2 separate regions of the Homo sapiens genome follow, and region 1 is linked to region 2. The links come from fine-mapping of genetic effects on gene expression. A gene starts in region 2. The other region holds a variant in brackets. All regions are shown on one strand. Distances are from middle to middle. Region 1 overlaps LOC105375537 (a long non-coding RNA gene). Region 2 holds the start of MRPS33 (mitochondrial ribosomal protein S33).

The links. PIP is the estimated chance that this variant, and not a neighbour inherited with it, causes the effect. A credible set is the group of variants that fine-mapping cannot tell apart.
Region 1: its variant is the best candidate, but not a certain one, in a credible set for the expression of MRPS33 in monocytes (BLUEPRINT, PIP 0.71).

The regions. Positions count from the first base shown.
Region 1 is chr7:141,065,801-141,068,708 of GRCh38, reverse strand. The region is part of intron 2 of LOC105375537 (a long non-coding RNA gene); the gene reads right to left. Among named protein-coding and RNA genes, the nearest start is that of TMEM178B, 6.8 kb to the left of the region's middle. RefSeq lists an enhancer at 996-1,590. The variant A/G (reference allele first, on the strand shown) is at 1,246.
Region 2 is chr7:141,013,492-141,016,399 of GRCh38, reverse strand. MRPS33 (mitochondrial ribosomal protein S33) reads left to right here and starts at 1,448. Exons shown (of 3, transcript NM_053035.3): 1 at 1,448-1,489. RefSeq lists enhancers at 920-1,119, 1,640-1,689, 1,152-1,797 and a silencer at 1,267-1,575.

The DNA of each region.
Region 1 (2,908 bases), 52 kb before region 2:
GCTGAGGCAGGAGAATCACTTGAACCCAAGAGGTAGAGGTTGCAGTGAGCCAAGATCACACCACTGCACTCCAACCTGGGTGACAGAGTGAGACTCAGTATCAAAAAAAAAAAAAAAAAGTCAGCTTTAGAGAGTCATATTAGTTTAACTACCTTCCTTCTCTTCTTCCTCATCTTCCTCCACCCCACCACCATATTAATCTTCTTAAATTCCACAGTTATCCTTTAAAATCCTGTAGTAGGGTTGGGCACAGTGGCTCACGCCTGGAATCCCAGCTTTGGGAGGCCAAGGAGGGCAGATCACTTGAGTCTGGGAGTTCGAGACCAGCCTGGCCAACATGGCAAAACCCCATCTCTGCTAAAAATACAAAAATAAGCCAGGCATGGTGGTGCAGGCCTGCAATCCCAGCTATTCGGGAGGCTGAGGCACGAGAATCACTTGAATCCAGGAGGTAGAGACTGCAGTGAGCGGAGATCATGCTGCTGTACTCCAGCCTGGGTGACAGAATGAGAGTCTGTCTTAAAAATAAAATAAAATAAAATTCTGCAGTAGTTTCACTTTGTCTGTACCTTAAAGTTCAGACCTTTTACATCTCTATAAGACCCTGCCCAGGGCTTCAGCCTAGCCTCTAACGATGACTTCCTCACTCTCAAAGAAACACCCTCGGGTGGAGGAGCCAAGATGGCCGAATAGGAACAGCTCTGGTCTACAGCTCCCAGCGTGAGCGACGCAGAAGACGGGTGATTTCTGCATTTCCATCTGAGGTACCGGGTTCATCTCACTAGGGAGTGCCAGACAGTGGGCGCAGGCCAGTGTGTGCGCGCACCGTGCGTGAGCCGAAGCAGGGCGAGGCATTGCCTCACCTGGGAAGCGCAAGGGGTCAGGGAGTTCCCTTTCCGAGTCAAAGAAAGGGGTGACGGACGCACCTGGAAAATCGGGTCACTCCCACCCGAATATTGCGCTTTTCAGACCGGCTTAAGAAACGGCGCACCACGAGACTATATCCCACACCTGGCTCAGAGGGTCCTACGCCCACGGAATCTCGCTGATTGCTAGCACAGCAGTCTGAGATCAAACTGCAAGGCGGCAACGAGGCTGGGGGAGGGGCGCCCGCCATTGCCCAGGCTTGCTTAGGTAAACAAAGCAGCCGGGAAGCTCGAACTGGGTGGAGCCCACCACAGCTCAAGGAGGCCTGCCTGCCTCCGTAGGCTCCACCTCTGGGGGCAGGGCACAGACAAACAAAAA[A/G]ACAGCAGTAACCTCTGCAGACTTAAGTGTCCCTGTCTGACAGCTTTGAAGAGAGCAGTGGTTCTCCCAGCACGCAGCTGGAGATCTGAGAACGCGCAGACTGCCTCCTCAAGTGGGTCCCTGACCCCTGACCCCCGAGCAGCCTAACTGGGAGGCACCCCCCAGCAGGGGCACACTGACACCTCACACGGCAGGGTATTCCAACAGACCTGCACCTGAGGGTCCTGTCTGTTAGAAGGAAAACTAACAACCAGAAAGGACATCTACACCGAAAACCCATCTGTACATCACCATCATCAAAGACCAAAAGTAGATAAAACCACAAAGATGGGGAAAAAACAGAACAGAAAAACTGGAAACTCTAAAAAGCAGAGCGCCTCTCCTCCTCCAAAGGAACGCAGTTCCTCACCAGCAATGGAACAAAACTGGATGGAGAATGATTTTGACGAGCTGAGAGAAGAAGGCTTCAGACGATCAAATTACTCTGAGCTACGGGAGGACATTCAAACCAAAGGCAAAGAAGTTGAAAACTTTGAAAAAAATTTAGAAGAATGTATAACTAGAATAACCAATACAGAGAAGTGCTTAAAGGAGCTGATGGAGCTGAAAACCAAGGCTCGAGAACTACGTGAAGAATGCAGAAGCCTCAGGAGCCGATGCGATCAACTGGAAGAAAGGGTATCAGCAATGGAAGATGAAATGAATGAAATGAAGCGAGAAGGGAAGTTTAGAGAAAAAAGAATAAAAAGAAATGAGCAAAGCCTCCAAGAAATATGGGACTATGTGAAAAGACCAAATCTACGTCTGATTGGTGTACCTGAAAGTGATGTGGAGAATGGAACCAAGTTGGAAAACACTCTGCAGGATATTATCCAGGAGAACTTCCCCAATCTAGCAAGGCAGGCCAACGTTCAGATTCAGGAAATAGAGAGAATGCCACAAAGATACTCCTCAAGAAGAGCAACTCCAAGACACATAATTGTCAGATTCACCAAAGTTGAAATGAAGGAAAAAATGTTAAGGGCAGCCAGAGAGAAAGGTCGGGTTACCCTCAAAGGAAAGCCCATCAGACTAACAGCAGTTCTCTCGGCAGAAACCCTACAAGCCAGAAGAGAGTGGGGGCCAATATTCAACATTCTTAAAGAAAAGAATTTTCAACCCAGAATTTCATATCCAGCCAAACTAAGCTTCATAAGTGAAGGAGAAATAAAATACTTTATAGAGAAGCAAATGCTGAGAGATTTTGTCACCACCAGGCCTGCCCTAAAAGAGCTCCTGAAGGAAGCGCTAAACATGGAAAGGAACAACCGGTACCAGCCGCTGCAAAATCATGCCAAAATGTAAAGACCATCGAGACTAGGAAGAAACTGCATCAACTAATGAGCAAAATCACCAGCTAACATCATAATGACAGGATCAAATTCACACATAACAATATTAACTTTAAATATAAATGGACTAAATTCTGCAATTAAAAGACACAGACTGGCAAGTTGGATAAAGAGTCAAGACCCATCAGTGTGCTGTATTCAGGAAACCCATCTCACGTGCAGAGACACACATAGGCTCAAAATAAAAGGATGGAGGAAGATCTACCAAGCCAATGGAAAACAAAAAAAGGCAGGGGTTGCAATCCTAGTCTCTGATAAAACAGACTTTAAAC
Region 2 (2,908 bases):
TACAACACCAAGTTTGTGGTATTTTATTATAGCAGCCTCAGGAAACTAATATGAACCCCCATGAAATTGACTTAATAAAAGTGATAGTGCAAAGTACCTAAACAGTCACCTGAAACTCTATATACCTAGCTATGTTTCAAGAAAGATTTATGGTAGCTTATAGTAATTCACAAAACATTGATAACACCAATAATTCATACGTGAAAAGGAAAAAACAGGAAGGATATACAAAACGAAGCCAACAAGGTTTATGCAAAAAATATATATATGTGTGTGTATATATATATATACACACACATATATATAGCTCTTGCCTCGAGCCAATTAAAATTTGGCTTTAAACCAGCAGCTTACACGTAAAGGAAGTCTTCTTGTTTATATGATTCAGTGGCCATTACATAAAAACAAGCCAACTCCACAGAAACAAGTACAAAAGACAAGACGAAATTTCTCCCAGGAGTTTCGCTCCTTAGGACTTCTTTTCTGGACTGTAGCCATGTATAGGATACTCATTACCCCTTTGTAAACTTAAATGTAGTCACTAGACCCAACTTTATAAGGCTGTTTACTATATCATATAAGGCTGATAACATGTCAAAACTTAACTTGATAAAAGCAAATCCTATAGCATAGATTGATTAGACGTCAAATTCTAACTTAAAAGTAAATTCTGTAGGAGGAAAGAGGGTGTAAATACAATACCCACTAGGTAGGCAACTCACTACCGATATTAATTCCAGGGTACATTTTGAAATATTTATAAAATGCCTTGAACGATACTCAGAAAACGAGTACAGTTTCCTCACCCAAACTATCAAACATTGAGTAAGTGCTGCATACAATGCCTATGGGATGTGGCTTGCTTGAAAACAGATTTAGTATGGGGTGAAATACTCACAATGCTTTCTACTATCTGCCCAGCGAGGTCTAAGATAACTACTGAGGAGACAAACGTTCCATCCCCTACTCCCTGAAGAAGCTCCTGGGTCAATGGGGGAAAGCGCTCCTAACCCAGTAGCAAGGAAGGCTTGCAGCTAGGGATCCTAATTAACTATTAGAAGATGAGCAGATAGATGGAAGGGGAGGGGGATGGCGCCGCAAGTCGGTCAGAAAGACCACACGGCACACGCATCGCCATTGCTTCAGAGCTTTTGGAGGCAGGTCTGTAGCCATTCCCACCAAAACATACTACCGAACCGTGCATGCCCTTCCAGGAGAGCCAGACCTTTCTAACTCTCCCCAGCCCACCACCTCCCCGGGTCCTCCGCACAGGCGGCGGCGCTAGCCTTACTGCGCAGGCGCCAGGTACACCTCGGAGGCCTCAGGAGGGGGAGCCAGTAACTCCGGGTCGTTCACTAGGGCTCCGCTCTAGCTGCCAAGCTTCCGTTTCTCTACTGCTCCCCGTAATAGTTGCCTGCGCGAGCTTGGAGCCGGGTAGAGGGCGGGCCTTCCGGGACGAGGGCGCGTGGGTGAGGAAGGTCAGGTCTAGGTAAGGCTGTCGGTGACTTTGGGGGTCTGCAGCAAGGGGCGATGGCTGCGAAGTCTACGGGGGTCTCCAACCTTGTAGAGTCGCCAGGAATAGGGCGAATCCACTTCATTAGTGACCAGCTCGGGCGGTTCACGTGCATCACACAAATAACTTGGCCTTTTTCTGCCTCAGTTGGGGGATTTCTTAAACGTAGAATACCCGCGTTTCCGCTGCCGTAATTTCCTCTCAGGCGCAATTACTCTCTTCCATATTGGTTAACAGTAGAAGGCTCAGTTTCTCTGCTCATCACACGGCCTTCGGCACTGTAGCTTTGGGTGGTGGGCTGCAGATTAATTTTGTAACCACCTTAAGAAAAATACGGTAAGGTGATATTTAAGAAAAATATTTGCGAAATGCGCTCCCGAGTCAAACATCGGTTGACTTGACAATACTACAGTTTCCATCACAGTCAGGCATGATCGAGTCAGGTGGAGGGAGTTGAAGATTGTTCTTGATGAACTGAATGCAGCTAATACATTTTCAGTGCCGTTGATGCCTCTATGACTCCGTAAAATAATCGGTACCGGGTTTTTTTGTTTTTAAGCATTCTGTTGAGATTGTTTTTATGTTTAGATTGTTTCTATGACAACGTGTGTACACTGTATGTGAATTCCTTGGATCCTGATGGTTATTAGGGTGGGCACTGTGCCGTGAATTTTGCATATTAGCTTCACATCGCAGATAGTATGACTGTCCTCGTGTAGTCGATGAGAGAACCTGGCAGAGAATAAGCACCATTACAAAAACGACGTGGCCATTAAAAGGCAGAGGCGAGATTCCAACCAGCTTTTTTATTCTGCAGCTGGTGCGTTCTGCTAACCAATGGTTTTTGGGAAACTGGAGAAAGCTCTCTCCCAGAACAATTTACACACACACATACATACACATATCGGCATACAGATGTACACTTCCACTGTTTTCAAAACGCTGAAGCACATCCCGGTTAAGAACTCTTGCACTTCATCTTTACCTTTCAAAGAGAAAAGGCAAACCTAATACAAAGCCACTTATTGAAATAATCTTTTAAATGCATCAGACCTATCAAAAAGATCAAAGAAGTTTGCCCTGTTATGCCAAAGTAAAAATATGGGAATTTTCTTCTCATGTGGGCTTAATTTGTTTTGCTCAGCACATTTGAGTAATTTGTTTTTGCTTAGCATTTTCAGCTCCAGTTAACTTTTTTCATGAGAGTACAGTTTTCTTTAGTTCACATTTAAAGAAAGGTAACACTTAAAGTGACTTGTACTCCCCGAGAATGGTTTCATGTGAATCAAAATGTAATTGACATGCACGTTGTAAGAAAAGCTCCCGTGTTATTCTTCGTGAGAGACATGTGTCTGTGCACTGTGGAAGGAAACAACAAAGCAGTGTCATTGGTAA